Homo sapiens: one gene and its partner. The protein of the gene in region 1 purifies or fractionates together with the protein of each later gene. This does not show direct contact. Each region holds a gene or a part of one and is shown in the gene's direction. Other genes may lie near its edges. The genes, in order: SPATA19 and MTHFR.

Region 1 (3,907 bases):
TTTCTCCGCTGTATGCATATTTGTACATTTTACTGTATGCATTTTATAACATTGTAATCAAAAAGCAAATAGATTTATGTATGAGCTTCATTTTGACAACATAAGCACAGGATATGTCGTCGAGAAACTAATGAAAATTTTACTTCTGAAGTGAGTTAGAACAAGGTTGAAGGTATGGGGAAGAGATGGAACGTCCTTGAATGTATCTGTTCATGTTTTGATTTCTGAATCACATTAATATTTTAAATATTCAAAAATAAAATTACATCAATAAGGATGAAAACATAAATTTTAGGGGATAGCTGTAGAAACAGAGATGTTGACAGGTAATTTCATCTGCTATTTTACAATTTCCAGTCTTCCTTGGAATTAGGTAGGGGCCATAGGACTAGTTCTAGATCAAAAGCTCTAAGTAGGAGCCTCTGAGCTGAAAGGTGGAACACTGACCTGATTCCTCTCTGTGCTCTCTTCCCTGCTTTGGCAGTCATGGAGGTCGTGTCCTCTGAATGTGGACCTGTGAGTCTCCACATGGCACACAATTGCTCTGAAATTACCCAACTTGCACGAGAGCTTTTGAGAGTGAGAAATAAACATTTTGATTTGGAGGTTGGTTTGTTGCCTCAGTCCTCAGCAGAGCCTAGCCGATTCTGACTATGTCAGGGATGATATAAAATTGAGGCGAATTGTTGAGAGGGAAGACGTGTAGTGGCTGTATCAGGGGAATTGGAGAAAGTGATAAAAGGTTTTCTATAATCCTGAGAAGAATAAACGTGGGAAAATTTTTGGAATATTAGAGTTAGAAGAAAGCTAGGGACACAACTCTATCCCTTTCAGTATAAGACAAAGAAACTCAGACCAGAGGGACTAATGATTAGGTCAAGAGCACATGACAAGTTGTTGCGGGACAGGTTGTTACTGGTGGAGGGTGTTCAGGTTCTTGGCGTCTTAAACAAAGAAATGGACAAAACACACAAACGAAGGAAAGAATGAAGTAACAAAGGCAGAGATTTAACGAAAATAAAAGTACACTCCACAGGATGGGAGCAGACTGGTTACAGAATTTTCTGGGGTTTAAATACCCTCTAGGGGTTTCCCATTGGTTACTTGGTATATACCCTATGTAAATGAAGTAGTGGCTCATGATCAGTCTGATTGGTTGCGGAAAGTGACCAATCAGAGGCTGAAGTGAAGTTATAAAGTTATATCTCTATGCAAATGAAGACCTGGCCCACAACCAGCCTGATTGTGGGAGGGGAGCAATCAGAGATACTTTCAGTTTTTCATCTGCCATGCAGAAAAGGAGAGGGTTGCAAAGGGCGTAGCCTCTGGTCTTTTTGTTACTTGGGCACGGAAAGTTGGGGTTTTCCTTTTGATTTAGTTCTAGGAAGTCAGTGTAAATCGGCCTTAGGTTTCCTGGCTCCAGACCCCATCCTCCTGCCTGGAGGTGAGCTCCCAAATTAGTGCTTTCCCAAGAAAAGAATTCAAGGGTCAGCCAATGGTGTTAGACAGCAATCTTTTATTCAATGGTTCTGCTCCTTGAAGCAGGGTAACTCATAGGAGTGCACCCAGAGCCTGAAATGCAGGGGCTCTTGGCAACGGCATTTATACTCACATACATCATTTTCAAAGGGAGGCCATTGTCACATCACCATGGGTCAGCCAATCAGGTGGACACCTCCCTTCAATGACCTTCCTGTCCCATAGGAGTTCTCAGGCAGCTTCAATGGAAGGAGGGAGCCAAGAAGGGGGCCTGGTATACATTCAAAGATGATAATTACGACATGGATTGTGTATATTCTTGCTCGGAAAGGTGTAGGGCTTCCCTTCCTACCAATAACCAGTTCGGTAAGCAGCTTGGTGGTAGTCACATGGAATAATTTTTCATATATCTTCTCCCCCTGTGGGACCCTGCTGCACTTCATAGAGATCTTACAAATAAATTTGAGTAACAGTTGCGGGGGCTGGGTGGGAAGAGCTGAATTTCTAGGTTTTCTGAGGTCACCAACTTGCCAATTTGTTCCAGGACATTGACGTTGTGGAAAGTGAGGCTGTGTCTGTACTACATCATTGGTTGAAAAAAGTGAGTAAGATTTCTTTATGACTCAGGATATCCAAAATGCTAGAGAAGTGGTCTCAGTGGGTGTGGGGATCTGGACTTCCTTCTTCATGGAACTGGAACTCAAGTTCATTGCCAGACACCCTTCCTAGATTTGAGTCTAATTTCTTCACATGTGCTGGAGGACACTGTGGCTTGTGTCCTGGCAGGAAATGTGTTAGCACCACCACTAACGCCGTCCTGCTTCTCAAGCATCCTGGCTTAAGGGTTTCAGCTGCATCCTTCCCAGCTCAAGGGTGTCTCAGGAACACCTTGGGATAGGGCCAGGGACTTAGGGAGTTCTGAGGACTTTACAGGGAAGTAGCTTATTGTGGGAACAGTGAGGTAAGGAGTGTATGTGTGTGAATATGTGGTGTGTGAGTTGTGATGGAGAATGAATAAAAGGAAAGGAAGAGGAGAAGAAGACCCAGGGTTGGATGCAGAGTGACATTTTCAGAGGGAATTTCTCACCTTTCAGACAGAAGAAGAGGCTTCTCGGGGCATAAAGGAAAAGCTGTCCATCAACCACCCTTCCCAGGGTGTAAGGGAGAAGATGTCCACTGACTCCCCTCCCACCCATGGCCAGGACATCCACGTGACCAGAGATGTGGTAAATGAGAGTTTGAGACCTTGCCTGGGAGTAGCGGTGAGGGAGAGGGGAGAGGTGGGAGGTGCACCGTAAATGATTCTGGGCAAGGGTGAGGTGCTCGTCTGGGCTCTGTGCCAGCCCAGTTGGGGGCCACACTGGGCAGGAATCACATGGACCCTCTGGATTTCCCAGGTGAAGCACCACCTCTCTAAGTCTGATTTGTTGGCAAACCAGAGCCAAGAGGTCCTAGAGGAGAGAACACGAATCCAGTTCATAAGATGGAGGTAAGGTGTCCCACTTGCCCTGGGCGAAGGAAGGGGAGGGAGAGATGCGCAAGCCCCTCTCTTCACGAACCCTCAGATGCTCTTCTCTAGAGATGTCGTCTTTGGCTGACAAATTCCTCAGCCTTGCTTTGGGGTCTTAAGGGAATATCCTTGCTATCTTGAAAGCCCAGCTCATTTCTACATTTTTAAATGACTTGAGGGGTTGGAAAACTGGGCTTGCACTCCATTTCTTAAATGCTTCTGAATACATTTCAGATTTCTGTTATTTTTGCACTTGAGTTGCTCAGAAGTGGCTGCACTTTAAAGAGCTAAAAGAAAATAAGCTCTTAAAATGCAAAAGCCAAAGTTTTCATCTGCAACTGAGGTGTGGGGAGGCTTCCCAGCGCCCGAGGCTAGAATTCTGCACTCGGTTATGGTGGCTTCGCCAGCGTCCCGGGTGCCTGCCAGCTCACAGCCGTCCCCACTGCCTCTCGTGGCTCTGCAGATGCTGAGCCCCGAGGCCCAGGGAGCTGGCCTGAAGCCATCATGCTTCAGACAGAGGCTTTCCTATTTCCTTTCCTGCACCTGTGTTCACTGGGGGTCTCTGGAGCACATCAGCCACCCCTTCCCAGGAGAGGGACTGAGGGCTTAGACTGGTCCTACGGGAACCTGAAGGAGACTTCTCCCCTTCCTCCTCTCTTCCTCCTTTCCCTGCCGCATCATCGATGTTGATCTGTTGTATCAAGGAGGCTCCATTTCTCAAGAAACGGTTTCCATGTGCTTACCCCTTCTAGTGGCATCTGCCTTTTAGGAAGACTCAAATGCACAGTAATTTCATAACCAAAAGGAATAACATGGTGGGATCTGAGAGCTCCCTGGGAAAGAGTTTTTTTGGATGGGAAGCCTTCTGAGGCCCCTAAAATCATAAATGTTGTTGATTATAATCCAGGCTTTTCTGTG
Region 2 (3,807 bases), on another chromosome or scaffold:
GGTTCTAGAGGAGATGTCAATGTCATTGTCAGCTTGCACTGGGGAGGATGGAATGTGTGGGGCCTCTCTCCCATGACTCGGCCTGTCAAACCAGTTGCTGCTGTTCAGAAATGGCTTCTTCGTGGAGTCTTCCCTGACTGATTGGGAGAGGGGTGGCTGATAGCCCTCAGACCTGTCCAGACTGAGAAACTCACGTCCCCACTCCCCTCACCCTTTGCTTATGGACGTGCCAACGCCACAGTTCATTATTCCGCCCACATGGCTGCCAGTAGTCCTGATACCTTAGGTGTCTGCGAAAGGGCGTCTGGCAGGGCTGGGGTTGGTGACAGGCACCTGTCTCTCCCACAGGCCTACTTAGAGTTTTTCACTTCCCGCGAGACAGCGGAAGCACTTCTGCAAGTGCTGAAGAAGTACGAGCTCCGGGTTAATTACCACCTTGTCAATGTGAAGGTAGGCCAGGCCCCAGGGTTCCCACAGAGTACCAGGCCCTTCGTTGAGCAAACACCCAGCACCTAGCCTGGGCTAGGCATTGTGCAAGACAGAGAGATACAGGCAGAACTGGGGCCCTGCTCTTAAGGAGCTCCCAGCCTAGAGTGAGGGAGGCAGATCAATGTGTGACCACCAGCCAGTGTAAGTGGGAAAATCAAGTTCAGGAGAGGATGCTGTCGGGTCCAGAGGAGGGATATCTCACCTGGGAGGCCAGGGAAGGCTTCTCAGAGGGTCATCTGTGGGAATCACTGAGGACAAAGAGGAGTTGGCCAACAGGAGAGAAGGGTATTCCTGGGACAGGGCAGAGGACAGGCAGAGGCAGTGAGCTGCACCATCTGGGGAAACGGGGAACATGAGCAGGAGGAGGCGGGAGTGTTAAGCAGGGGCCAGGCCCGCAGAGATCATGGTTGTCCTGCTGGAATTTGAGTTTTCCCTCAATGCAAGGGAAGCCTTTCTCCAGCAGTGGGGTGGCTTGGTTCCTGCTTTATTTTAGGCAAATCACAGTGGATAGTCATACGGATGAGAGAGATTGGGGACGGCTAGAGCCGGGGAGGCCAGTGAAGAGACCCCTGGAGTGACCCAAGCCAAACACACTCCTGGAGGTGGGCTAGACAAGAGGGAATGGATCAGAGAGTGAGCAGGGGGTGCTCAAGGAGGAGAGGGGAAGTGGCCAGGACGCCTCTAGGTTCAGGCTTGTGTGGGGAGAGATATCATTCACAGATGCAGGCAGAGGAGGCCAGGAGCGGAGGCACAGGGAGAGGGGAGTGGAGGCGCAGGGAGAGTGGAGGCCGGGAGTGGAGGCGCAGGCAGAGGGTATTGAGCCCAGACAGCCTCATTGAGTCAAGGCTGTCCAGGCAGTGGGACTCCAGTTGTTCTTGGCCCAGGTCTTACCCCCACCCCACATCCCCTCAGGGTGAAAACATCACCAATGCCCCTGAACTGCAGCCGAATGCTGTCACTTGGGGCATCTTCCCTGGGCGAGAGATCATCCAGCCCACCGTAGTGGATCCCGTCAGCTTCATGTTCTGGAAGGTAAAGGAGCCGGGGGCAAGCTTGCCCCGCCCACCTGGAAAACCGTGGGGAGGGATTGGGACCAAGTCCCAAGCGTGTGCTGAAGGCCACACTGGACCCAGCCTTCAGGGCACACCCAGCTCTGACTCACCCATGTCACTGCTGATGCAGGGTGTTTATTTCTGGGCAGGGGTGGGAAGTGATACTGGCAGTGGGCCTTGTTCTATTCCGGGAAATGTCCTGTTGAGCAGAGCCCTTGGAGAGCCCTGTTAATCTTGCCTCTGTGTGTGTGTGCATGTGTGCGTGTGTGCGGGGGTATGTGTGTGTAGGACGAGGCCTTTGCCCTGTGGATTGAGCGGTGGGGAAAGCTGTATGAGGAGGAGTCCCCGTCCCGCACCATCATCCAGTACATCCACGACAACTACTTCCTGGTCAACCTGGTGGACAATGACTTCCCACTGGACAACTGCCTCTGGCAGGTGGTGGAAGACACATTGGAGCTTCTCAACAGGCCCACCCAGAATGCGAGAGAAACGGAGGCTCCATGACCCTGCGTCCTGACGCCCTGCGTTGGAGCCACTCCTGTCCCGCCTTCCTCCTCCACAGTGCTGCTTCTCTTGGGAACTCCACTCTCCTTCGTGTCTCTCCCACCCCGGCCTCCACTCCCCCACCTGACAATGGCAGCTAGACTGGAGTGAGGCTTCCAGGCTCTTCCTGGACCTGAGTCGGCCCCACATGGGAACCTAGTACTCTCTGCTCTAGCCAGGAGTCTGTGCTCTTTTGGTGGGGAGCACTTGCGTCCTGCAGAGGACCACAGTGGGTGGCACCTCCTGAGAAGGCGAGGAGAGTGGTTGTTGCCAACTAAGCCCTCGAACCAAGGCAGCCTCCAGAGCCAGCCTGGGACTCCCAGTGAACTTACACTTGGAGCCCGTGCAGTACAGGCAAAACACGCAAGGGCATCAGGCACTGGTGGCATCGTAGAAGAGATGTGGCAAAGTGCTGTACCCTTCCACCTCCTAGAGGTGGGCAGCTGGGCCCCACCTACTTGTGACTGAAGGGGCACACCACTGCCCTGCCTGCCCACTTAGCCGTCCATGGCACCAGCCCCCTGGATGGGCATTGGGCTGACACCTACCATGCTGCTTTTTGGCACAGTTGTCTATTCTGAGCCTTGAGAGAAAAAGTGCCCCTTAAGGGTTGAAGGCAGTCTGAACCCTTGTGCTTGGTGGGGCTCGTGGCCTTCCCCTTTTGCCTGGCTGTGGAGGCCTGATGCTGCCCCGTTCCCTGTCAGAGGCTAAGATGAGATTTGCCAGCACAGGGGCCCCAGATCTGCCTGGGCCTGTGCAGCAGCCCAGCTTCCTGGTGTATTTTTCAGGTAGGCCCTTGTCCTGCCAGCTGCCTTCCTCATCCCCTCGTCCTGTCCCAGAGGTTATCTGCCTGGCCTGGCTCCCCACGAGTCACCTGCAAGCCCCAGGGCCTGGGGGCAGTGACTGGCAGGTGCAGATGGGCTGTTTCGTGTAGTGGAAGAGCAGCCTGATGGCCAAGGGGGTGGACGCAATTGTGGGATGTCCTCTTTACTCCCTTCCTGGCCTCACTGGCTGGGGCAGAGGGGCAGCCGCTAGGAGAGACTGAAAGCAGCAGCTAGGACTGAGGAGTGGGTTTTATTGTCCTTCAGAGCTCTTCAAGCTGTCCCCTCTGTCATCACTCCCTGGATGTGTGGGGCATGGTTCCTTCCCTGGGAAGGCTAAGTTCAGTTCTGTTTTTTATTCTATGAGAACAAGTCACAGCTGCAGCTGGGCCCCATGCTCTGCCCCAAGCCCCCAACCCCGCGGTGCTCTGGCGGCTTCCTGTCCACTCTCGGGGCCCTTGGGGCCTGGCTTGCTCCAGGGTCTTGGGCTACTGGCAGCTCCTCTCCTTGGGCTCCTGGCTGCCAGGCGTTGGTGCCACTTCTTAAAGGCCTGGAACCAGGGAGGAGAGGAAATGCTATTGTTGTGGGCTTTCTCCGGGGTCTGTGCTGTGCCTGCTAGAGCAACCCCTGTACCCAGCTCCTTTTGTCCCCAGGGCCCCTCCCTCTGCCCCAAGCAGCCAGCCAGTCTTGCCTAGGCCAAATGCACAAGCTCAGAATAGATCTGATGGTGAGCTGGGAAGCTGTACTCAGAGCAGAGCAAATGAGGGAGGGGGCGCTCAGGACCCAGGCCCTCCATGGGCTAGTGTGAGTGGCAGCCATGCCTCATGCCACACCTTCTTCGCAAACTGATGGACCGGGTGGGCCTGGCCTGAGCTGGGGCCACAAATCAAAGCAAGGGC

Evidence for each region.
Region 2: the proteins of SPATA19 (region 1) and MTHFR purify together in Homo sapiens (affinity purification with mass spectrometry; 2 studies listed by BioGRID and IntAct, with this or other methods). This does not show direct contact.

The regions. Positions count from the first base shown.
Region 1 is NC_000011.10:133,843,307-133,847,213, reverse strand, and holds the start of SPATA19 (spermatogenesis-associated protein 19, mitochondrial precursor), read left to right. Parts: upstream 1-1,700; 5' UTR 1,701-1,767; coding exon 1,768-1,845; intron 1,846-2,023; coding exon 2,024-2,080; intron 2,081-2,573; coding exon 2,574-2,705; intron 2,706-2,876; coding exon 2,877-2,968; intron 2,969-3,907.
Region 2 is NC_000001.11:11,788,921-11,792,727, reverse strand, and holds part of MTHFR (methylenetetrahydrofolate reductase (NADPH)), read left to right. Parts: intron 1-348; coding exon 349-450; intron 451-1,401; coding exon 1,402-1,521; intron 1,522-1,829; coding exon 1,830-2,048; coding exon of another isoform or gene 2,049-2,188; 3' UTR 2,189-3,268; coding exon of another isoform or gene 3,269-3,458; 3' UTR 3,459-3,684; coding exon of another isoform or gene 3,685-3,807. Other genes in the region: uncharacterized protein C1orf167, read right to left, coding at 3,685-3,807. UniProt on the Homo sapiens protein: Catalyzes the conversion of 5,10-methylenetetrahydrofolate to 5-methyltetrahydrofolate, a cosubstrate for homocysteine remethylation to methionine. Represents a key regulatory connection between the folate and methionine cycles.